7 linked regions of the Homo sapiens genome follow. The protein of the gene in region 1 purifies or fractionates together with the protein of each later gene. This does not show direct contact. Each region holds a gene or a part of one and is shown in the gene's direction. Other genes may lie near its edges.

Evidence for each region.
Region 2: the proteins of PARP12 (region 1) and ELAVL2 purify together in Homo sapiens (co-immunoprecipitation; one large-scale study listed by IntAct). This does not show direct contact.
Region 3: the proteins of PARP12 (region 1) and QKI purify together in Homo sapiens (co-immunoprecipitation; one large-scale study listed by IntAct). This does not show direct contact.
Region 4: the proteins of PARP12 (region 1) and CCDC80 purify together in Homo sapiens (co-immunoprecipitation; one large-scale study listed by IntAct). This does not show direct contact.
Region 5: the proteins of PARP12 (region 1) and PARP9 purify together in Homo sapiens (co-immunoprecipitation; one large-scale study listed by IntAct). This does not show direct contact.
Region 6: the proteins of PARP12 (region 1) and SIRT5 purify together in Homo sapiens (affinity purification with mass spectrometry; one large-scale study listed by BioGRID and IntAct). This does not show direct contact.
Region 7: the proteins of PARP12 (region 1) and PPWD1 purify together in Homo sapiens (co-immunoprecipitation; one large-scale study listed by IntAct). This does not show direct contact.

The regions. Positions count from the first base shown.
Region 1 is NC_000007.14:140,031,952-140,035,451, reverse strand, and holds part of PARP12 (protein mono-ADP-ribosyltransferase PARP12), read left to right. Parts: intron 1-1,120; coding exon 1,121-1,217; intron 1,218-1,370; coding exon of another isoform or gene 1,371-1,413; exon of another isoform or gene 1,414-2,937; intron 2,938-3,500.
Region 2 is NC_000009.12:23,819,741-23,823,240, reverse strand, and holds part of ELAVL2 (ELAV-like protein 2), read left to right. Parts: intron 1-108; exon of another isoform or gene 109-475; intron 476-685; exon of another isoform or gene 686-878; intron 879-1,420; exon of another isoform or gene 1,421-1,636; intron 1,637-1,931; exon of another isoform or gene 1,932-2,014; intron 2,015-2,084; exon of another isoform or gene 2,085-2,306; intron 2,307-3,500.
Region 3 is NC_000006.12:163,561,218-163,564,717, forward strand, and holds part of QKI (KH domain-containing RNA-binding protein QKI), read left to right. Parts: intron 1-764; coding exon 765-852; intron 853-2,202; coding exon 2,203-2,502; coding exon of another isoform or gene 2,503-2,528; exon of another isoform or gene 2,529-3,449; coding exon of another isoform or gene 3,450-3,493; exon of another isoform or gene 3,494-3,500. UniProt on the Homo sapiens protein: RNA reader protein, which recognizes and binds specific RNAs, thereby regulating RNA metabolic processes, such as pre-mRNA splicing, circular RNA (circRNA) formation, mRNA export, mRNA stability and/or translation.
Region 4 is NC_000003.12:112,631,144-112,634,643, reverse strand, and holds part of CCDC80 (coiled-coil domain-containing protein 80 precursor), read left to right. Parts: intron 1-3,500. UniProt on the Homo sapiens protein: Promotes cell adhesion and matrix assembly.
Region 5 is NC_000003.12:122,554,301-122,557,800, reverse strand, and holds part of PARP9 (protein mono-ADP-ribosyltransferase PARP9), read left to right. Parts: intron 1-1,679; coding exon 1,680-2,515; intron 2,516-3,500.
Region 6 is NC_000006.12:13,577,601-13,581,100, forward strand, and holds part of SIRT5 (NAD-dependent protein deacylase sirtuin-5, mitochondrial), read left to right. Parts: intron 1-1,171; exon of another isoform or gene 1,172-1,233; intron 1,234-1,850; 5' UTR 1,851-2,009; intron 2,010-3,500. UniProt on the Homo sapiens protein: NAD-dependent lysine demalonylase, desuccinylase and deglutarylase that specifically removes malonyl, succinyl and glutaryl groups on target proteins.
Region 7 is NC_000005.10:65,562,016-65,566,095, forward strand, and holds the start of PPWD1 (peptidylprolyl isomerase domain and WD repeat-containing protein 1), read left to right. Parts: upstream 1-1,280; 5' UTR 1,281-1,295; coding exon 1,296-1,491; intron 1,492-1,787; coding exon of another isoform or gene 1,788-1,824; intron 1,825-4,080. UniProt on the Homo sapiens protein: PPIase that catalyzes the cis-trans isomerization of proline imidic peptide bonds in oligopeptides and may therefore assist protein folding. May be involved in pre-mRNA splicing.

The DNA.
Region 1 (3,500 bases):
AGAAGGGTAGGGAATGTGTCTGACACACATTTAGCCAGTCCACGTATCTTAGCTCACTTTTAATTTCACCAGTGAAAGCCATTTAAGATTCATCACAGATGGCCAGTAGGCCAGTAACACCCATTTAAATATGCCAGTGAGAATGGTCTTGATGGGCGGCTGAGTAGTGGGTAACAGAAGGGGTCATGGTTGCTGCATCTGGATCATGGGCTCTGAATGAGAATGTGGATGGACCTCCAGGAATAGTGACCATCTCAGCTGCAACCTAAGAGACACACACTTGGATAACCATCCAGTTTATGCTCAACTGCAATAAGGCTAATTCTGGACACCTATAATTTTTAATATTAAAATGTTTTGTAAATGAAAACAAAATTAGTTGGGCATGGTGTCACAAACCTGTAGTCCCAGCTACTTGGGAGGCTGAGGTGGGAGGATTACTTGAGCTGGTGAGTTCAAGGTCCACTTGAGCAACAAAGCAAAAGACCCCATCTCTTAAAAAAAATGTAAGACTTGAGAGGGTTTTCCTGGCAGGCAAGGACAGAACAAACACTGCTAGGTATTTGTCATTTTTCAACTTGAGGGGCCAGTTCCCCCAACCCCAAATCCTCAGGATGAGTATGGGATTCTTGAGGGTGGGGAAGCAAGAAATTTGTTTATTAAAGATATTATTGGTTTAGAAAGGTTGATGAATACTGCCATAGTTTAACTAAAACAAAGTCATAAAACTTACATTAACTCTGAATCCCACTAACTCAAGACATGGTAGTTTGATCTCAGGCTGGGCTGAGGCTTTTTTATATCCAAGCTGGGAAAAATTGCCAAGCAAAATAATGGTTTAAACAAGATTGGAAGGAACAATTTAAAAGCACTCATGTGTAATTGATATGTCAATTACTAATCATTCCTCTATTCATTAAACCCAGTCTCCTAAGGATACCTATTTTCTTTATGAATATTTGAAATGTGTAAAATGGCCCTATTTTTAACAGACTGATTCTGGGTTTTACACATTTGGATAAGCTTTCAAATCTATCTAATTTGTGTTTATAAAACATTGCCATCCTGTGTGTATGTATATGTATATGTATATTTTTTCACTGGTTATGTTTTTTTTCAGCCTTCGTTCAGAAAAACCTGGTCTATGGCACAACTAAAAAGGTTTGCCGCAGACCCAAATACGTGTCTCCCCAGGATGTGACGACCATGCAAACCTGGTAGGTTGCAGTGGGGGGCTTGGTACTTAGGATGTAATCAGCTGGGGTGTGCTCTGCAGTGGTGACAGAAAACCTGCCTCAGACAGCACCCGGGCACCGTTGGCTTGTACAACGAAGTGCTCCCACACTCTGTTATCGTTTGTCTTCTACTAGTTGGACCAGAGTGGGAATTACCCTGTGGGTAGAAGCTTCGTGATGCATAATTAGAAGGCTGCCTGTTGTGATCTGCGATGATTCTCTGGAGAAGACAGACTCTGAAGGCGAGTCTAGACTTGAAGCCAACCCATCCGTTTGTCTTTTCTGTGGAATCATTGAGTCATAGACTTGAATTTTTTAAATGTTGAAATAATGAAATAATGATGGAATTACACCAATAAAAACTCATGTATTTTAGTATTTGAATATCACGGAATACCAAAACTCTAAAAACAGATATTGCAGTCACTAATGGGCGAGCTTCGTCAGGGTGAGTTTCTTTCAGTCCCAAGATGGCTGCCAGGAGCCACCAGGTTAGCCTGTGGCCTGTGAGCCCCTAGAAGGGAGGAGAGAAACCTCCTATAGCAGATGAGGGGAAATTCTTGTGCTTTGTACTGATCAGACCCTATCTCAACCTCTGGTGTTATTTTAGGCTTGGGGAGGTGGGATGGGATTGGAACTGAGAGGAAGGGGTCAGTGTTCTCCAAACCACACAGCCACATATTGGGGGAAGGTGGCCTGCATGGTGGAGAGGGACCACAGTGCCCATACAGTTTGGGCTTGCCAGAGCCAGTGCTGGGACTTTAGGCAGTGTTACTGGTAGCTGGCTGCACCTTCTGTTCGCCTGAGAGGTCTGGCTTGTGTCTATTTTATGGAGAACCAACAATGTCTCTTTTGGTTCTTTTGTTTTGTGAAGCATGCAAAGGTCGTTTTTAAATGAGTTTGGTACAAGATAGAGGAGAAAGGTATTATCAGTCCACGAAACTGCCTTGTGAGTCAGACCTAGCAAAGTAATTTCCTGGGAATGTGCCTTACTTTTTCCTTTTTAAATTAAAATTTATTTTTGCGCTGGGTGCAGTGACTCACACCTGTAATCCCAACAGTTCAAGAGGCCGAGGCGGGTAGATTGCTTGAGCCCAGGAGTTCGAGACCAGCCTGTGCGCCTGTAGTCCCAGCTACTCAGGAGACTGAGGTGGGAGAGACACCTGAGCCCAGGGAGGTCAAGGCCGTAGTGAGCCAAGATCACACCACTGCACTCCAGCCTGGGTGACAGAGTGAGACCCGTCTCAAAAATAATAATTATTATTATTATTGTTTTTGACTATGTGTAAAACCTTCACGTGATTAAAAGTCAAACCTATATAAAATGGTATCCTCTGTAGACTGTAACTTCCTCCCTGTTATCTCTACCCTGTTCCCACTGTGGGTAACATTAGTTTCCGGTTTCTCTTTTTTATGTTTCTCTTTGCAAAAATAAGCATTTGCATACATACATATAAAAGTATTTTCTTCTTGCACAAAAGGGAACATGCTATCTATACTGTTCTATACCCTTTTTTGTTTTCACTTAAAAATAGATCATGATAATCACTTTGTTTCAATTCATTAACTTCCTCAATCCGTTTCTTCTTTCCTGGTTCTCTGTAATATGTATGTACCATAGTTTACTTAATATGTCCCCTTTTCATGGATGTTTGTGTTGTTTTCAGTCTTTTGCTATTAAAAAGTATAATGTCGTGATGAACCATTTGATGTATGTGCTGTTTCAAATTTTGGAGGTATGGCCAGGTGCGGTGGTGCACACCTATAATCCCAGCACTTTGGGAGGCCAAGATGGAAGGATCGCTTGAGCCCAGGAGTTTGAGACCAACCTGGGCAACATAGCGAGACCCTGTCTCTTTTTTTTTTTAATTAAAAAAAACAAATTTTGGAGGTCGACTGTTAGGTCAGAGTCGTAGGAAGTAAACCAAATTCCTTTCCATGGGCTTGAATCATTATGCACACCCACTAGGACGCATGAGATGCCACAGAGTGAGTTGTCAGGCTCTTGGGCTTTTGCATTTCTCAGGGGTAAAGATGGGTCAGTGGACTTCAGTTTGCTCTCTCTTAGGAGTGAGGTTGAATATTATTTCTAACATGTAAGTGCCATTTTTGCTTCTTTTTCTGTGGACTGTTGGTCTTTTTATCCATTTTTCTATCAACTTTCTGGTATTTTTCTTAAATATCAAGAGCCTTTTATCTATTAGGGAGGTTGGCCCTCGTTTTGTTATATAAATGGCAAATATTTTCTCTTAGTTTGTTGTTTGC
Region 2 (3,500 bases), on another chromosome or scaffold:
ATTAACTATTTACTGAGAGGTCAAAGAGGCGCAGGCGCTTTGAGCAGTTTTCCCAGGAACCCACACAAAGTCAATTAAGGTCATTTAATTGCAAATCGGATTTGGGGTGACACGGAAATGCTGATATAGAATCAGTTAGCTGTATCCGGTGTCCCCAGACTGGGTCGCACAAATTAAGGGATGGCCTATCTCGCTTTTGACCTTGGTTGAGCCCCCTACTTCACTATGCTGATTAGACTTCGCCCAAGAGGGCAAATTTGCCTCTCCCACACCCGCCCTGGGTTAGACGAGTCCCCTCCCTTCCCCCCAACCCCGCTCCGCCCGTCGCATGGGGGCGGGGAGCGCTGGACGCCCTTAGCGGACCTTGCTGCATCAAACCTGCATCATGCCCTTGAAGCTGTAACCTCGGTCACGTTCTTGCGGCGACTGGGTCGCCCACTGCTCGGTTCCTTTCTCTTACCTCCTACAATTTCAGGTAGGTATGACAGGTGATTTTTTAAATGTAGTATTTTAGGAGAAGGGCTAAAATCGATGCCTTTGCAATGAAAAAAATCCCAACTACAGGTGCTCTCGTAATTAAGCGGCCGAGCAGGTGTAAAAACGTGCTCCAGCCGCGTGGCTCCGGGGTGGGTTTTGACTTCCAGCCGTGGGGCCGGGTCTGAGGACAGGCACAGGTTTTTCTGGGGAAAAGGGATTGAGCTTGGCGAAGGGGCGGGCCAAGGCAAGGCAGCGATGGGACGCCCCCTCGGTGAAGAGTTGGCCATTTCGGGTCTTGAGTTGGGGGGCGATAGAAGGATGCGGCTAGCGGCAAGCGTTTGCATAGTCGAGTGCAGGATTTCCTACTTTGCGTTTGAAGCAGAGTACAGCACCCCGCACAGGTACTCTGGGCTTATTTAAACGTCAGGTTCTCTCTAGAGAGGCAGGGAGGGGCAGCAGGGGGCTAAGCCTTTATTTTCTGTCCAGGGACAGGACCCCTTGGCTGCGAAGTAGGGGGAAAAAGAGAATTTTTAAAAGAGACACACATATGTGTGTATACTTATATATATTTATAAATACATTTATGAACACATAAAGTAACCCCCACGTTAGCTGCTCTGACTCCCCGTTAGCGCCCCGGGCCTCGGGATTTGCAAACTTGCACCTGGAATCAGCCTCCTCTGGGCGCTCAACGCTCTCCACCGAGTCCAGAGAAACCTTGTCGGGGAAGCCTGGTGAGACTCGGAAGTCCGGAGGGACGGAGCTGAGCTGCTGAAGCCCGGCATCTCCCTGCCGGCACGGACCCGAAGGGCGGTCGGGCAGGGCACGCGCCGGCGGCGGCCGCGGCGCCGCGAACTCGCCGCCGGCCCCGCCTCCTGGCGCTCTTCCAAGCAAGCCCCTCCTTCCCGCCCCGCTACAAACGGCGGGACCGCGGCGCCTGGGCGTCACTGAGGCAGTAGCCGGCCGGGTGAGGAGGGCGGTTGCCGGCGCGGCGCGGCGCGGCGCGGGTGGGGCGGGGGTTCCGCCGGCTTCCAGTCCCCTTTCCCGCCGCCGCCGCCGCCACCGCCTCTCCGCGGAGCTCGCCCCGAGCGACTCCTCCGCGGCAGTGCTGACGGCCAGCGGCACGAGCCGTAGTAGCTGCAGCTTCGAGTCACAGCAGGCAAGTGCTGGGGGCGTGGGGGCGGGGACGGCGTCCGCGCCTTGCCCCTGGTCCATTTTGGACGCCGAGGCTAAGGTCTGTGCGCGCCCCCGCTGCGTCTAGCAGGGTAGGGGTGGTGCGCCCTAGTCCGAACTCTGGGCGGGAACACTGGTGGGGGCGGCGGAGGTTGTGCCCGCGAAGTTCCTAGAGCTCAGCCCGTTGCGGCGGGAGTAGAGAGAATTGGGCGCCTCGGGAGGTGGCACCGCCCCTCCCGTGGGCACAAGCAGGTTGGGGGCGGCGGGAGCCGAGCGGGGACAGTCGCGCCTGGCAGCGTGCACGGGCGTGGACGTGCCCGGGTGCGGCCGCGTGTAGCGCAAGAAGGAAACTGTTGAGACGCAGGTGAGTGTATTGGAGGGAAAGTGGGGGAGGGGGCTTTTCTAGAAAAAGGGCAGGATTCCTGTGTTGCACTGGCAACCCCGCCTTGCGGGAGGATGTGTGCACTGGCTTCTCCCGCGGAACACGCCGGGGTGGTGTCTGGTGTGTGCCCACTTGCTACGGCGCCTTCGCGCGCGCGGTCCTTGGAGCTCTCGGGGCGTTTGGAGACTTAACACCGGCCGCGTTGTGTGCGGAGGTGGTGTAGGGCCGCGGGCGCCCAGGGCAGGAGCAATGATGATCCCCTCGTGCGCGTTAGGTGAGGCCCGTCGCAGCCGCGCGAGGTCGCAGCTCGCGGTCACATCTCGGGTTTGCGCGCGAGGCGTGCGCTGCGCGGGAAGCGCGGGCGCTCTGCCGGGCGAGGCCGGCTCTGGGATTTCAGTTCGCTTGCCGTGGTTGCGGCAGCTGCTCCTCCAGCTTGGCTGGTAGGGCCTGCCAGCGGCGGCCGGGGTGCACGGACTAGTGTGCGTGCACTGGTGAGACTGGGGGAGCCAGCGTCGGTTCACTGGCAGGTGCTCCTCCAGTGGCCGTGACAATGCTTAGCCAGCAGTCTTTCTCACGGCATTTCCTTAAAAGCCTCCTTGTTATCCTTCAGGGCCAGAGCGTAAAACCATGCCTCTAGATGCGAGCTATGAGCATGCAGTTGTAGCTGCCCAGATGGTCATTTAGAATTGTGTGCATTTTTAAAGACCATCTTTATGACAAAGATTTTCAAGTCCTATCGTCTCTACATTTTCTGAAAACATGGGAAAAGGATTTGCTACGAGTTGTCCACTCTCCTTTATTCCCTCCCTCAAAGAACGGTTCTTAGAAGTGCCAAAATGTAATACCTTCGGCAAGGACAAAAGCGCTTTTAAAACTTAATTTTCTAGTGGCCCTATTCCTAATAATTCTTCATAAAAATTTAGCTCAGCCTCAAAACTTACGGCGAATCAGTCCATTTAAAACCATTCGAATATCAATTGCTGTGTAATGTCCCCATTCCCTCAAGTAAAATCTGTTTGTTTGAAATATTGTTTTGTTGCCCTTGAAGAGTTTTCTCAAGAATCGTTTCGCCAGAGTCGCTTGAATTTCCCATTTCTTGTGGAAGCTGACCTGGAGTTTCCATTTTGGTGAGCGGGTGGAAAAGCTGTCCTGCATCTACCTTGTCTTAGTAACCTTTGGGTATATATAAATGGTGACTGTATTGCTGAGTGGACCCGAATGTTACTGCATTTGTGGTAGGGGCCTTCTTTATAGGAGGTTTGTAGGGATGCTAAGGTAACAACACTTAAGGTTGTGGGGAGGATATACTTACGGGAAGTTCGCTTGCAAACTATGGGGAGAGAAAGAAGAGGAAGAAAACATCTGGAAGATAAAGGCCAGAATGGGGTAGGAAAAATTAGAATATGAAGAAACATGTTACATTAAATTTTCTGTGATTCCTCCTTTGTAATTTTCCTTTTTGAGAGAG
Region 3 (3,500 bases), on another chromosome or scaffold:
TTGTATGTTTAAAATTATTTGTGTGCACATGTGCACGCGCGTGTGTGTATGTGTGTGTTTAACGAACACATTTGAGTTTTGGAATATTCAGCAAAATGATAGTTGCTGGCTGGGTGCAGTGGCTCACACTTGTAAACTTAGCACTTTGGGAGGCTGAAGCAGGAGGATCACTTGAAGCCAGGAGTTTGAGACCAGCCTGGGCTACAAAACGAGACCTTGTCTCTACAAAAAATAAAAAAAATTAGCCAGGCATGGTGGCGCGTGCCTCTAGTCGCAGCTACTTCGGAGGCTGAGGTAGGAGGATGGCTCGAACCTAGGAATTCAAGGTGGCTGTGAGCTAGGATCATGCCACAGCACTCCAGCCTGGGTAACAGAGCAAGACCCTGTATCTAAAAACAATAAAATTAATTAAAGTAATTTTAAAATGATAGATGCTGAAGAGAATATGTTATGTTTAGTCTTATCTCACATTTTCATTCATTTCTATTTAAAAGTAAAGCTTTTTAGGGGAACTTTAATAAATCGGTGTAACTGACAAAAAATTTACAAATACAATATGCTGTATATCAACATGCCTTTACTGAGAAAACAGAGAAAGCAGGCTCCATTATGTTAGCACCTTTTGGTTCTTGATCTTTTTTTCCCCTTATTAAAACAGGTGACTGTAGTCACATGATACTTACTTTAAGGCTTGTGTGTAGATATAGCTATTATATTTGTGGACAGTCTCAAATGCTTTCATCTCATGTGTTTTCCATGTATAGGCAGAAGGAGAAGACAGCCTGAAGAAGATGCAGCTGATGGAGCTTGCGATTCTGAATGGCACCTACAGAGATGCCAACATTAAATCACGTAAGAATGAGCTCTGAGGCCCAGGGTTACTGCTGTCTGCGTTGTTTTGTCTACAGACTTTTTTCCTTTTGGCAACACAATAATAGTTCATACAAAGTGAACAGTTGAAATAACTGTTCTGTCACTTGATATGGGGCTGACAGTCCTATTTTTAATGCTTTCATGAATTGAGGACACTCTTGATTTTATTTTATGTCAGCATGTTGAAGTTTTAGGTTGATAAACTTACATTATTTTAACAAAATCACAATCTCTAAATTCAAGTGTTTAAGAAATTTTCTGTTTGGTTAACTACAGATGTAGGGCTTGCAGCTTATCTTGTTAAATTTATGCAAAAGACAACATATTGAAAGCTTATTTTGAAAAAGTGAATTTGAAGTGTATCTGACTGAAATGACCCTCTGTTGAGTTCTGTCCTTTCACTTTGCTTGCATGTTTTCCCTCTAGTATTTTTCCCTGTTGATTTCATATGTGAGTTCACAGAGATCAGTGGGTGATAACTCTTTTTCCGTCCTATTTTTGTTTTTATGCGTATCTATGCATGTTTTTATAAGCCGTAAGAGGATAGCTTTTTTATGTTTAAAATGAAATAATGTGAAATTTATATTTTGAAACAATTTAAGATTCATACATGTCATTTATATGAACATACCATGTTTAAATTACTGATTATTTAAAACACATAGAATTTTTAAGTTCTAGCCAGATTTAGAAGATGTAGGCAACCTCTAGTGGGTTTAGAAGTAGTTACTTTACAAATTGTTGACATTAATTTACTCATGAAAATGTGAGTATATCATTAATAGGAATTTAGAAGTAGGGCTTTTTAAGATTTTCTGTGACGTTGGTTCCTAAAGATGCAGGAAATGTACATATATACCTAGTGGTTACTTGACTAAATGCAATAAAAATTATTCTTTCTTTACTTTGAAACTAAAGCTGTACTTTAGAAATATACCAAAACTGAGTTTCTGTGGACTCCGGTTACAAATTATTTTTTAACATCTGTTAATGCAAGTGTTTCATTGTGCTTCTGCATGTACTTTAGTCTTATGAAATCTTAGATATATCAAATGTATGAACTAAATATAACCTATTTAATGGTGTCATTCATTTTTTTACAATGGCTTTTTAATTTTTGCACATTCTTAATCACATTGGGAAAGGGAAAGCTGTTTGCATTTGATTGGTGTGCTTTTGCATTTTTGTGTGATCAGCGCATGTACTAATGATTTCCTTTTATTTTTCTTCTTTCCTGCTTTTCCTTTCTTTTTCCTACTCCCTTCTCATTTTTCCGTATTTTATACTGCTGTCTCTATACTTCTTTCTAAATTTCTTTGCTTACTGTAGCAGCCCTTGCCTTTTCTCTTGCAGCAACAGCCCAGGCTGCTCCAAGGATCATTACTGGGCCTGCGCCGGTTCTCCCACCAGCTGCCCTGCGTACTCCTACGCCAGCTGGCCCTACCATAATGCCTTTGATCAGACAAATACAGACCGCTGTCATGCCAAACGGAACTCCTCACCCAACTGCTGCAATAGTTCCTCCAGGGCCCGAAGCTGGTTTAATCTATACACCCTATGAGTACCCCTACACATTGGCACCAGCTACATCAATCCTTGAGTATCCTATTGAACCTAGTGGTGTATTAGGTAAGTTCTTCTCCCCATGGGGTTAACAACATTCTCTTTATAAATATTTTTGCTCCCTCAGATTTTGAAATGATTTTATCAGTTTTAGAGAGGCAAGACAAGTTTGCATTAGGGAAGACCGAAAACTAAATTTTGTTTTATTTCAGCCTCTCATAAGGGTTCCCCTTTGAAATAATTGCACCTTAAATTTATTCAGATCCACTTTGGTAACTGAGGTTCAGTTTGGTTGGGTAAATCTGTTGTGTACATTTCAACAAATACTTTTACATTTGACATTACTGAGGTCATTCTGAGTTTTAGGTCCCACCCCATTGGCCCGTCACCTCCATCAGCTCCACTTCTCAAACTTTATTTGAGATTTATTTTATCTCACAGGTTTGTGTAATTGTTGGAAAATTTTTAAACTTCTAAGTGAAAGTAGTCTGAGCGCTTTATAAAATTCATATTATTGTGTGTGTTTTGTAATATTTGCGATCACTTAAAATATCAGATAAATACAGTCATGCATCGCTTAACAACGGGGATACAGTCTAAGAATTGCCTTGTCTGGCAGTTTCATCATTTGGTGTACATCATAGAGTGTACTTACACAGACATAGATGATATCGTTTACTACACACCTAGGCTGTGTGGTATAGCCATTATAATCTTATGGGACCACATAGTATAAGTGGTCCGTTGTTGACCAAAATGTTGTTATGCAGGCATGACTGTAGTTGTATTCTTAAGATTTTTCAGTTCTTGTGTTTTGGAGTCCTAGTCATATTAAACATGAGAGATACTCTTAATTTCAGTAGTACAGTATGGAATAGTTAAATAAATAGCAAATCACTGAATTCAGAATCTCACTTAAGGCAGAAATTAAAATCATAATATAAACGCTTGGTTTTACATGAACAAAAAGTGGTGTGCTCGAAAAAGACATTACTGATGCCTTTTTTTTATAGAGTGGATTGAAATGCCAGTCATGCCTGATATTTCAGCCCATTGACTTGCTG
Region 4 (3,500 bases), on another chromosome or scaffold:
GTGGTAAATGATTGCTAAGCACAAATGTGGAGTTTCTGCCTTTAATACGCAGCTAGTCCTCTGCACTCAATTCTCTGGCTTTCCAAACAGTCAGTCAAAAACAATAGATTGGATTCCAGTTAACCTAATTCTTCAGTCTGCTTGGTGTCAGTTTGAGGTTGACGATAGTGAGACTATAGGTAAGCTTATCACCAAAACATTGTACTATGGGGAGTATAGCTGAGAAGCCATCATTCTGCGCTCTGAGATCTAGTCACTTGTCAATTAACAAGGGACCTCAAATGCTGAATTCAATGAATTCAAGTGCAAATTTAAGAATTCTTTGGTGACTGAATCTCCTGTAATTCAAGTGGGTTCATATTTCCAACTTTACTTCAGACATCTGTGTATTAGGACAACCATCTACTTATTTGGTTTAATTTTAGGAAAGAATTTAAGGTTTCCTGCTGTACTAAGGCAGACTATTAGCTTGAAAGTTATTTTTCAGAATCCTGTAAAAAAAAATCTAGCATTTTGAGCCTAACGCAGTATTTTGAATAATCTGAGACTTAAAGTGTCTTCCCTCTAGCTTTTTTCCATTGCTCTTTGCTCTCTTTACTTATGCAAACAGGCTTCCTTATCCTCTGAGGCTCATTGAGCCAACACACCAGTTGGAACAGAAGCCATGAAAAAGAAATACAACACAGGTCTAAATTCATGATACATGCCCTGATTTATTGCCATCAAACTGGAAAGAGGCCAAGTGACAGAAAATAGTGTTTACTGAGGAGCTTTAAGCTGCTCTTTTTAGGAAGAGGGGACTGGAAATGGTTCTCATTTTAAACACTGTCTGAAATACAGCCCAACTAGAAAGTGAATGGGATGGAGATGTCAAAACATAGGGAAAGAGTCCCTGAAATGGGTTCAGATGGTCAGTCTTCTCTATTTTCTCTGTTGCAAACTTGAGGAGCAGATTAAATGTAAGGGAGAGTGTTTTCACCAACTGGTAAAGTCGTAGCCTGCATCTAGACATTCACAACAACCAGGGGACCCCTTTATTCCTGAGTCCCTCTCCTCTCCTCTGACTAGGGTGATCTATATAACCGGAGGAGTGTTGGCCAGCATTTATGCCCCCACCATCTGCAGGACAGTAATAGAGTCTGAGGAACTTACATTCTGCCTGGGGAGATGTGACAGTTATATAGTAAATGAAGGAAATGCTTAAATTCCAAGTGGGCGAGGCAGACAAAAAGAACAGTAATTAAAAGGAGGAAGTGATCCCTGCATGCTAGAAAAGACTTTAAGGAGGATAATGCATTGAAAGAAAGAATGAGATTTAGAGAAGGGCGGGGGCAGGTTTCTGAGGTAGAAGGAGTGACTTGGGCAAAGACAGAGGAAGGATTGTGGGTGAATTATTCAGAGGTGACATACCTGTATGTGCTTGGGGGACACATATTTATTTATTAAGAATAAATCAATCTGTAATAAGTTCATGTTATGATCTTATAAAGATATACAGATATATTTACTTTTGCTCAGATCTCACAACGTGATGAGGTTGGCAGGAAAGTTGATTCATTATAACAATGACAATGCTGAGCTTCAGAAGATTAAGTGGATTTATTTAGGCTACAAGCTAGCCAGGAGCTGAACTAGGACCGAAATGACAGCCCCCTGACTTTGACTGCAATTATTCTTTCTCTATGCCTCTCTGCCCAAGATTCCTTTCATTTCCTAATTTAGACTGGGTCTGGCTCTAGGGGGTAAAGAGGTCAGGTAAGGGAGGTATAGGAGGACATTAGCAAAAGAGAGCCCGGGGCCAGAACGTGGAGGGCCGGAAGTTAGAGAATGAGTCCTGCAAAACGAATGTCACCCCACTGGTGGTTAAAGGCATTCTTGGGCAAAGGGTCTGCAGTGAAAATAAACATCAGAGGCACTTATTTATTTAAATGAGATTCCCACTGGGTATCCATGGCCTCATGCCACTGTGTATAGAGCTATGTGGGAGAACCTACCACACAGGGGAGGATAAGGTTCTGTGTGATTACATACTGTCTGATATCCTTAATATACACAAGGGGGAGAAGACTAGAGGAGGGTTGAGGACTCTTAAAATCCTGTCATACCGTGATCTGTCCACAGATTGTAAGGGTCTATGGCAAAGTATGGTATGAATGAAATGGAATCTATGTATGAATTTGAAGTTACAGAAACAGATAATTTTCTGTCATCTAACATCTAAGCAGCTTTGCCCTAGAAACTCCTCTAAATATATTCTAAATATGGCTTATCCTTAATTTAGAATAGGGAGTCCAAAACCATGAACAGTAAGTCCCTTTCTCTTACCTTTGTTTTTACTGTTTTGTGTTTTTACTTAAACATTCATTTTATTTATTTCAGAATAGTGTGGTTTTGAGCACAAAACAGTCAGAAAAAAAGACCTAAAATATACCAACTTAAAATAAAACTTTGGTATCTGCGCTCCCATCAAGATCTGAAGAAATATTTTCAGATGCCATAAAGCTAATTAAAAACAAACCAAGCAACTAAAAATACCATCACCACATCTTTTTATAGCTGCCTTTAATCTTGTTTTAAGGCTAATGTGAATCAATGAATAAATTTGGAGAAATTTTGTTTTTCCCCTTAAAAAATTATGTTCCTAAAACAAGCATTTCCTACCCAGAATGTCCGTATGAGCAGGCATAGAAACACATGAAAAATAAACTAAAGCATGTCTATTTAAAATTAATTATGATCTGAAAAACAAAACAAAACAAAACAAAAACTTCATCCCAGAAAACCTTTGTTAACGTTCCATTCAAAGGCTATTGAACACGTTTAATTTCCTTGAGGGAGAGTATTTTGTCATGCGGGGAGAATTCTTAGAAGGGAAAGCCTGCAGGTAGCAATACAGACATCTCTGACAGAGAAAAATAAACAGCAGGATCAAGCTGAGACCAGATTTATTAACCATTTTTGATAAAATATTTGGAAGAGGTACACAGCCTGGTGATTTGCCCTCTGAAAAATGCCAAGGTAATAGTCATAAATATCGGAAATAGTTTATAAGTTTAGGCGGATAAATAGAAAGTTGGTTGATACATTTGAATGTAGTCAAATGCAAGAAAATTGGCTGATAAATTTGTATTTAGTCAAATGCAAAAAGTTGTTTACAGAAAAATGATTTATAGAGGTTTGCTTCTGAGCTTAGTGATGATGCAACAAAGGGCAAATAGACAGCGTTCATTGCAGACATCAGCCTGGTGATCTATTTGGGATCAAGGATCTCAACAAAGACCTGGTCATCATCACAATAAAATTTCACATCCTCCCACCTCCAAGGTAAGCAGCATTATGCCCACTAGCTTGTGGGATGTGGAACAGAGTTCTAGCTTCAGCTCAAGGATTGAGTAAAATTGGTAAAATTGGAGAAGGCTCAGGGAAGGGCAGCTAAATTAATCAAGAGAGTAGAGAAGCTTTTGTATTAGGTTAGATAAAAATAGTGAGACGTTCTCAGA
Region 5 (3,500 bases), on another chromosome or scaffold:
TAGACACCATGAAATACAGTGTCCCAAGCTGGGTCCTCCAGGAAGCAGAATTTGAGATGGAATTAGGAGTGCAAAAAATTCACTGTGAAAGGTAAAGAGAGGAAGCCGGACTGGGCAGACTAGCCATCAGACTGTAATAAAAACCCGACAGTCTCTGCAAGCCTGAGATTGACTGTTAGAGGTGTCCCACGTTGGGCATGAATGGCCTTGCTCAGCTACTGATGGAGGCTGCCCTGAGAATAGCATGACCTTGGCTGAAAGCTGAGATGAACCCTGAGGGGCTAACAGCTGGAGGCTGTCAGCTAACTGTATTTCCCACTTCATAGCCAATCGCAGGGAGATCTGAGTAGCACATCTTCTTGTCTGCCACATACGGTAAATAATTTTTAGTCAATTAGTTTTAATTTCACCAAAATTGTGCCAGACTAGAATATCATAAAGAATTATTTACTGAACTGAAGCAGACAGTATCAGTGCTCATTGGCTGGTCCAATGTCTCCCCTACTCCTCCTCACCAGGGAACTGCCTCAATCAATGACCAATAGAAGTTGGGTAGGCCAGGCATGGTGGCCTTTTTGAAGCCACCCAGGTGGGCAGATTGCTTGAATCTTTTGGAGCACTCTGGGAAATGCCTCTGAGAAAGGGGAAAAAATGCCAGCTAAACTGGGGCTTACCATCAATTGATAACAGGTATACTACCTTATTTCAATCGGCCCAGGTGGGCAGATTGCTTGAAATCAGGAGTTTGAGACCAGCCTAGGCAATATGGTGAAACCCCATCTCTACAGAAAAAAATACGGAAATTAGCTGGACACGATGGTGTGGGTGTAGTGCTGTGAGCCTGTAGCCCTGGCTACTCAGGAGGCTGAGGTGGGAGGATGGCTTGAGCATAGGAGGCAGAAGTTGCAGTGAGCCAAGACTGCATCACTACACTGCAGCCTGAGCAACACAGTGAGACCCTGTCTCAAAAGAAAAAGAAGTTGGATAAATACTCCAGCTCCTGTGGTTACTACCCCTCCAGTGGTATAACCCTGAGGCACAAGATCTACACTGTTTCCCAGTAGAGTTAAGTTCCATCTGCCTAGTTACACGTGCTTTGTTCATTTGTCTTACTTTCCCAGCCTGCCCTCCCCACCCCAAGGCCCTAGTATTTCCTAGGATCACCTCCCAAATAAACTACTTACATTCACATCTTTGTCTCAGGGTCTACTCTTAAGAAAACATAAACTTAGATGCTGACAAAGGCAAAAAAGTTATAAAACCTCCGCCTATTTTGGCTCATAATTAAGTCCCTTCCAATACCTGTGCCCTAAGCATTGGTCTTTCTAAGCTCGCCACTTTTATATATATTTTTAAAAATTCACAAGCCCCCATATACATGGTTTTCCTACCATCATCACTGCATCATAGTAACTACCACTTATGGAGTACTTAATATATGCCAGGCACAAGACTATGCACTTTATGGGTGACCTACCACTGAAAACTCTTAGATGTCCGTGGTCTAATTATATGTGTAGTTGAGAAGAAGAATCATGAAGAGCACTACATGAAGTTCATCTCTCTTTTGCACATAGGAAACACAGTCTCCTGGTATGAAGTGGGATTACAACCTTTCAAACTGTGCTTTTTTTTTTTTTTTTTTTTTTTTTTTTTTTTAATCTTCTCTTCTTTTCCAGAGACTGGTGCTCTTGGAGAAAACTATAGTTGGCAAATTCCCATTAACCACAATGACTTCAAAATTTTAAAAAATAATGAGCGTCAGCTGTGTGAAGTCCTCCAGAATAAGTTTGGCTGTATCTCTACCCTGGTCTCTCCAGTTCAGGAAGGCAACAGCAAATCTCTGCAAGTGTTCAGAAAAATGCTGACTCCTAGGATAGAGTTATCAGTCTGGAAAGATGACCTCACCACACATGCTGTTGATGCTGTGGTGAATGCAGCCAATGAAGATCTTCTGCATGGGGGAGGCCTGGCCCTGGCCCTGGTAAAAGCTGGTGGATTTGAAATCCAAGAAGAGAGCAAACAGTTTGTTGCCAGATATGGTAAAGTGTCAGCTGGTGAGATAGCTGTCACGGGAGCAGGGAGGCTTCCCTGCAAACAGATCATCCATGCTGTTGGGCCTCGGTGGATGGAATGGGATAAACAGGGATGTACTGGAAAGCTGCAGAGGGCCATTGTAAGTATTCTGAATTATGTCATCTATAAAAATACTCACATTAAGACAGTAGCAATTCCAGCCTTGAGCTCTGGGATTTTTCAGTTCCCTCTGAATTTGTGTACAAAGACTATTGTAGAGACTATCCGGGTTAGTTTGCAAGGGAAGCCAATGATGAGTAATTTGAAAGAAATTCACCTGGTGAGCAATGAGGACCCTACTGTTGCTGCCTTTAAAGCTGCTTCAGAATTCATCCTAGGGAAGAGTGAGCTGGGACAAGAAACCACCCCTTCTTTCAATGCAATGGTCGTGAACAACCTGACCCTCCAGATTGTCCAGGGCCACATTGAATGGCAGACGGTAAGTCTTTGTTTCTATTCTCTTGCACTGGCACAGGTGATCCCTGAAAATTAAATAATTTTTGAGTGTACACTATGCAACACTATGTAGAAACCATCTTGTTTGGATTAAGAATATGAGCCAGATGCAGTGGTACATGCCTGTAACCCAGCTACTTGAGAGCCTGAGGTTGGAGGACCATTTGAGCCCAGGAGTTGGAGGCCAGCCTAGGCAACATACCCAGACCCCATCTCTTTAAAAAATTTTAATTTAAGTTTTTTTTTAAAATAGGCTGGTCATGGTGGCTCATGCCTATAATCCCAGCACTTTGGGAGGTTGAGACAGGAGGATCACTTGAGCCCAGGTGTTCAAGACCAGCCTGAGGAACATAGCAAGACCCTGTCTCAAAAAAAAAAAAAAATTATCAGGGCATGGTGATGCACATCTGTAGTCCCAACTACTTTGGGAGACTAAGGCAGGAGGCGCACTTGAGCCCATGAGTTCAAGGCTGCAGTGATTCCTGCCAGGGCAACAGAGCAAGACTTTGACTTTGACTCTAAAAATAATAATAATAATAATATAGCATTCAGTGCCAGGCCATCTGGATTTGAATACCAGCTTTGCTATTTATTAACTGGGTAACCCAAAGCAAGTTACTTTATCTTTTGTTCTTCAGTTTCCTCATTTGTACATTGAGGATAATAATAGCATTTATATCTTAGAGCTGGGATCAATATACATAAAATGCTTAGAGTAGTGCTTGGCACATAATAAGTATTTATCATTATTATGGCTGTTGCTATTATCTTAGGCACCCGGAGGAATTAGAACAATCTTTGATCCCAAGGAACCTAAAATCAATTATATTCTTTATTATAAAAATATTCTTTATTTGAAAAATCTCTCTGGGGAGAAAAACCATCTCAACATTTCTGAAGCAACCTATCAATAGTAAACAAAAATAATACTTAAGAGTATGTAAATTTGTGACAAGAGTGGAGTATAG
Region 6 (3,500 bases), on another chromosome or scaffold:
TAACATCTTATATATAGAAATCTCATATATCTTATATGTCTCTCTATATTATATATATATTTATATATCCCTATAGATCTCTCTGTATATCTTATATACATAGATATTATATATCTATATTTTATATACATATCTATATTATATATAGATCTTATATATAGAAAACATATATAGAAAAATTCTTCCCTTCCTATTTGGATGACTTACTTCCTTTCCTTGCATAATTGCTCTGGCTAGGACATCTAGTACTACACTGAATAGACAATGTGAGAGTGAGCATCATTGTCTTGTTCCTGATCTTAGAGGAAAAGCATTCAACTTTTTACCGTTGAGTATGATTTAGCTGTGAGTTTGTCATATTTGGTCTTTCTGTGTCACAGTACTTCTATACTTATTGAGAGTTTTTATTATGAAAAGATGTTGAATTTTGTCACATGTTTTACTGCATCTTTTGAGGTGATCATACAGTTTTTGTCCTCCATTTTGTTAATATGGTATATCTCATTTATTGATTTGTGTATGTTGAGCCATCTTTGCATTCCAGGGATAAATCTCAATCATGATGAATGATCCTTTTAACGTGTCAGTGAATTCAGTTTGTTAGTATTTTGTTAAGAATTTTTGCATCTATGTTCATCAGGGATATTGGTCTGTAGTTTTTCTTCTTGTAACGTCCTTCTCTGGCTTTGGTATCAGGGTAATACTGGCCTCCTAAAATGAGTTTAGAAGTATTTCCTCCTCTTTAGTTTTTTAGAAGAGTTTGAAAATAATTGGTATTGGGAGGCCGAGGCAGGCGGATCACGAGGTCAGGAGATCGAGACCATCCTGGCTAACACGGTGAAACCCCGTCTCTACTAAAAATACAAAAAATTAGCCGGGCGTGGTGTCGGTTGCTTGTAGTCCCAGCTACTCGGGAGGCTGAGGCAGAATGGCATGAACCCGGGAGGTGGAGCTTGCAGTAAGTGGAGACGGCGCCACTGCACTGCAGCTGGGGGGACAGAGCGAGACTCCATCTCAAAAAAAAAAAAAAAAAAAAAGAAAATAATTGGTATTAGTTCTGCTTTAAATGTTTGGTAGAATTCAGGTCATCAGTGAAGCCATCAGGTTCTGAGTTTTCTGTAAATTTTTTTCCCTCAAATTTCTGATATAATCTTTCACTTCTATCTTTCAGAATTGGTAGGGTGCCCCCCTTTTTCACAGAGAACATACAGGCTTTTAAAAAAAATCTGTTAGGTGAGTTTCAGATTTCATGAAAAGGCATCGTTAAATGACATTACTTGGATTAATGTCAATTTATAAGAACCTGCCTAGCACCCAAAAAGCTCCCAATGACTGATCAATGAGTTTATTTCCTCCCTCAAGGCCTCTTTTCCCACCTGGAAGATAAAATCAAGGCAGGAGTCTTCACCCAGGGTAACTTTCACCCTGAGTCCTCTTTCCTCTAACTGTCACAATGGTGCCTTGTCACCCTTCTGACATTGCTTCTAAATTTGAACAGGGTTGTAACCTTGTGGAAACTAGAACCACTGCCTGCCCTGACACCCTGGAAAAGCAGATACATGTTGGCACAAAGGATGTTTTCAATAAAGACTTTGTAGTAGTATCTTAAAAGACTATTTAGTAGCAAATACTAAATTGTATTTAGACTTTTAGTCTTAAAATACTTTGTAGTCGCAAATAAAGACTAAGAAAATAGTTTTATGTTATGAACATTTACGATCTTGGGAATAATTCCAGGTGACATTGTTCTTAATTTCTTTTAAATTCTTAATGACTTTTACAATCCTACCTTCATGCCTGATAAAAAAAAATGACAGTTTATTCAGTAGTTTTTTTGAATTCTTTTACAGTAAATGGAAATGTTTTCTAACATATAAAAACCTACAGAAGAAGAAAATAATTTTCTGGATCAAATTAGAAGTCTGTATTATATTGATGTCTCCAGATTCAAATATATTAGAAAGCAGCCGTGGAGACAACCATCTTCATTTTGGGAGAAATAACTAAAGGTATGTATTAAGCTCAAGATGATAGCCTAAGTAACTTCATGCAGCATATAAGAAGCTTTTAGTTACTGTTAGGCAGTATTCAGAGTTTTGATCTTCACAATTTTCATGACATGCAAGTTTAATAATTGTCATCTCTAACGATATTTTTAAAACTTCATGCCCCTAATTATTGAAGCTGGGTGATAAGAATATAAGGGTTCCCCATACTACACTGTTTATTTTTGTATATGTTTAAGTTTTTCCAGATTTTAACAAAAAACCCACAAACTATATTAACACCTCATTTGTTCCTTACTGAGTTTTCCAGGTAAATTGAAGTTTGTCAAAAGTTTATCATGCCCATGCTAGTTGAAGATCATGGCAATCCATTTTCCTCAAGCTTTCTTTAAATCAAGCACTGGAGTGATATTCATGTTGGTTGGATGTCACCATTGTCACTGAGTCTGGGAGCTGCTCACCAGAGTGGCTGCTGGGGCCCATGAGTCTGTTCACTTCCCTCTAGCAGCCAGTCTGCCTGCCTTCCCTGCAGAAGTAACTTTAGGCAGCCAGACAGCCTTGTCCCCTGAGGTTGTTCTGGAGACACTACACCATGTTTCTCTAACCTCTTCTCTTTTTGAGTGTCAATCTTCTTCTACAGTCTTTTTGATTGCAGAAGAGACAGGATACATTGAAAACGTGTTGACTTGCTTGCTTATTTGTAGGTGAGGTTTATCATATTACTCCTTACGCACTGTAAAATTCACGCTTTTTATTATACAGTTCTATGAGTGTTGAAAAAAATCACAAAAATAAAGATAATGTAATTTTACGTTGCTCTAAAAATTTCTCTGCTCCCCCTTACTCCCCCGACCCCTGTCCCTGGAAACCACTGGTGTGATTTCTGTACCAACAGTTTTGCCTTTTTAAAATGTCTTATAAATGGTCTCAAAAACTATGTAGCCTTTTGTATCTGGCTTCTTTCACTTAGCATAATGCTTCTCTGTCTCTCTTTCCCTCTCCCTCCCTCTGTTTCTTCCTCTCTTTTTCTCTTTCTCTCTTTCTCCCTCACTCTCGCTCCTGCTCTGGCCTTCTCTCCTTTCTTTGACAGGGTCTCACTCACCCAGGCAGGGAGTCCAGTGGCACAATCATGACTCACTGCAGCCTCAACCTTCTGGGCTCAAGTGATCCTCCTACCTCAGCCTCCTGAGTAGCTGGGACCATAGGCATGCACTGCCATGCCCAGCTACTTTTTTGTAGAGATGGGGTCTCACTTTGTTGCCCAGGCTGGTCTCGAACTCCTGGGCTCAAGTGATCCTCCTGCCTCAGCCTCCCAAAGTCCTGGGATTACAGGTGTGTGCCACCATGGCTGGCCCTTTTTTTTCTTGTTGTGAAGCAATTTTATTTTGAAATAATTTTAGGCTTACAGAAATGTTGCAAAAATAGTACACAGAGTTCTCATTATACCATTTACCCAATTTCCTCTAATGTTCACATCTTACCTAACTAGAGTGC
Region 7 (4,080 bases), on another chromosome or scaffold:
CAGAAGTGCTATGAAATGGTAAAGTATACAACACTGCCTGCAAGTACTATCGGAATTCAGGATAGGGAAGCTTAGAAAAACCAACCCGGAAGGAATTAGTCCATAATAATGCTTAATAAATGTTAACTAGCTACATTATTATTATCATTATCATTATCATCTTCATCCTCATTATTGCATTGGTCTCTGAAAGATGAGAAGCTGTAAACATGAAGGCTAAATCGCTGTGGAGATGCTTTCAAGCATAAAAACATAAGAGTAGGAGGCAAGAACGAACAAGGGAAATTTGTGAGACACAAAAGAAAGTAGTCTGATGAGAGCAGAGGGCAGAGAAGAAATGAGACTTGCTAGGTAGAATGGTCAAATAATGGGAACCTTTGAAATAAAATAAAGTGCCTACTATGGGGGGGCAGTTCCTTCCCTGTACGTGGTGCCTATCTCAAGGCAAAAGTAGAGAAGAGATTTACGACGAGGATTTTATTAGGTTGGTGCAAAAGTAATTGCAGAGAAAAAAGAAGTGTTTTACGGAGGTCATTTTGACAAGCTGTATTTGATTTTTTAAAAAAGAGATTAAGATAATACATTTTATGTTATGTGCTTTTTACCTAATTTTTTAAAAATGAAGAAGACAGATGAGGAGGAGGAGAAAGAGTTCAGATGACTGCTAGGAGATGAAATCCTATACCAGAGAGAAGAAAGAAGAGTGACCCGTTCTGCCCTAGGTCTTTTGGTTATTTGAAGTAGCTGCTTCTCCACCCCACCCCCAGAAACAGTAACAAGCACTCACCACCTTCTTCAGAGAGTGTGTGAGAGAATAAAGGTCAGGAGAGAAAACATGTTTAGTGCATCTGAAAGGAAACCCGCGAGTTAACCACTTCCTTCTGTCCCCACCCTTCCATCTTTCTCTAAATATTGGTGAGGTTATGGAGCTTGCGTTGGCGCGCGGGAAGCCGAGAAGAACGGGACTCAAAGCCCGGCTGGGAAGTCAGGTATCTAGTTGGCCGGCGATAAGGGTTTCACCTTCAGGACTGGAGCTCCACAAGATTCAACCGTTATATCAACCTCCCCGGCCCAGGTCTTACCATCACAGCGTCACAAACTCCAGGTCGCCTAGGCGCTGCGCAGGAAGCGCTTGCCAGCCCCGGACTTCTGCGCGCGCTGCATGCCCATTGGATGTGCTCATTCCCACCCCAGCCAATCCCGAAACTCGCTCGGACGCTGACAGAAGACTGCGCCGCTGCTTTGGGATTGGTAGCTGAGTTTTGTGTCGCGCCTTTTCTGACGATGCGAACAACATGGCGGCGGAAAGTGGTAGCGATTTTCAGCAGAGACGTAGAAGGCGCCGGGACCCGGAGGAACCGGAAAAAACAGAACTCAGCGAAAGAGAGCTGGCAGTAGCAGTGGCGGTGTCCCAGGAGAACGATGAGGAGAACGAAGAGCGCTGGGTTGGACCTTTACCTGTGGAGGCAACACTGGCCAAGAAGAGGAAAGGTAGCTGCAGACATAGTACCGGGACGAATTGGAGTGCTGCGTCCGCTGAGTAGGAGGGTTCAAGCCAGATCCGAAGAGGGATGATGTGTGGAGTTTTGTGCCCTCAGAACAGAGGGCCGTCCTCTCACTTCTGGCTACTCCATACTTGCATGTCTTAACGAAATAGTGATTTAAGCGTAGTACAACGTCTTTTTGATAATATCTAACACTTTTGATCATTGATTTGTTATGACAGATGCTAAAACTAACATTTTCCTATTCTTATGTGTTTGGCTCCTCTCATTTACTCCCCACAGCAGCCACATGAAGTTGGAATTTCGAACTCTTATTTAGGTATGCAAAAGGGTACCAGTTCTCTTTAAGGCTTTAGTTCAGGAGTGGTGTTAATGTATTAATGTGTTGGGGCGCGAGAGGAAGGCGGTGCTTATTTCGAATCATGGTAGGTAAAGATAATTTCAACTCTGACACTTCCACTAATAAATTTTCGCATCTAGGGAAAATGACGTAAGCTTCCTAGATCACAGATTTGTTTTCATCCAAAACCCGAAGTCTGTGGTTTTGAAATCACGCTCTTGATACGATGGGCTGAGTCTTTTTGTCACTAACGAGGAATAATCACAAATTATTATCAAATAAAAGGGGTGGGAAAAGGGGTAGATTAAGTTTTCTTGTCTTTGTTGTTTTGTTATCTTGTTTTTCTGTGAAATGTTTTCCTTAAGTATTTAAGACATTTTAAATGTGGTCTAAGCTCAAATCGTACTTTAGCACCTTCCCTTAAAAAACTTCAATGATTTGTCATTATTTTCTCTCTCTTTTTTTTTTTTTTTTTTTTTTTTGAGACGGAGTCTCGCTCTGTCGCCCAGGCTGGAGCGCATGCAGTGGCGCTATCTCGGCTCACCGCAACCTCCGTCTCCGGGGTTCAAGCGATTCTCCTGCCTCAGCCTCCCGAGTAGCTGGGGCTACAGGCGCACGCCCAGCTAATTTTTGTATTTTTAGTAGGGACGGGGTTTCACCATGTTGGCCAGGATGGTCTTGATTTCTTGACCTCGTAATCTGCCTGCCTCGGCCTCTCAAAAGTGCTGGGATTACAGGCATGAGCCACGGCGCCCAGCTCATTATTTTCATTAAAGCCCAAACTCCCTCACATGGCATATAAAGCCCTTTATGATGTGATCTCTCCTTACCTTCTTAGTGCATCTTCCATTACCTTCCTCTCCCAACCCCTTACTTTGTACTCCACCCATTCTAAAATCACTCGAGAATCGGTCTTGTACTTTTTTTTCCTCTGGATTCCTACCCAGATATGGTGTTTCTACCGGGAATAATTTCCCTCAACTCTTCCACTGAACTGACTTTTGGTCAACCTTTAGCACTTAGCTATCATCTTCTCTGGGAAGCCTGTGACTTCTCCAGTCTGGACTGGATTTCTGAAGCACTTTGATCATAACTCTGAGGTAGTTATATATCAATACTGAATTTACAGGTAGCCTTCAAATTTTATGTATCCAAATTTTGAAGAAGCTGTTTTTTTGAACGTTGTATATTGACACCCTTACAGTGCATTATCATTTTTACTTCCTGGTCCTCTTATTAAATGTTTCCATAGTAACCATTTTATTTATGGCACTTGCCGCAGTTTCTAATTATATATTTATTCATGTGATTGATGAATGTTTCTCTCCACTGCTAAGACTGTAAACAAGTAAGAACCAGAATCACGCCTTTTTTGTTTCATTGCTTGGTGTACAGTGCTTTGCCTAAGTATTTAATGACTGCATATTAAAGCTTTTATGCTGGTCTTTAGCTATTTTGTTGCATATGAATATTTTTGCAAGTTCTTTTTTAATTAAACGAGTAAGGAGAAATGTAAAAATCCAGAAATATCGAAATGCTGATATTAGTGTTACCGGACAAGTGTCTTATAAACTTAATATAACGGAGACAGATATAAATTAGTAGGTGTGAAAATCTTTCCTCTTAATCAGTTATTTATTGTTTTAAGACAGCCAATAGTTGGCCGGGTGTGGTGGCTGATGCCTGTAATCCTGGCACTTTGGGAGGCTGAGGCGGGCAGATCATCAGGTCAGGAGTTCTAGACCAGCCTGACCAACATGGTGAAACCCCGCCAGTCTCTACTAAAAATACAAAAAAATTAGCCGGGCGTGGTGGCGCACACCTATAATCTCAGCTATTCAGGAGGCTGAGGCAGGAGAATCACTTGAACCCAGGAGGCAGAGGTTGCAGTGAGCTGAGATTGTGCCACTGTACTTCAGCATGGGCAACAGAGCAAGACTCCGTCTCAAAAAAAAAAAAAAAAAAAGCCAATAGTTTATTCAGTTTGAAGAAAAAAATTGAAACTAAAAAACATACATAGAATGTTACAAAAATATTTAAAATTTTGTCTAAATGGACAAGTATTTAACAATTTCAGCTTTCTAGAAATGGAGTCACCCCCTTTAACATGTTCTTTGGACATTGGACTGTTGTATATATTTTCAGAAAGACATGATTATATAGCACTATATCTCTTCAGGACAGGAACTGTGTTTTACTCTTCTTTATGCCCATGTGACCTAGAACGTATTGTGT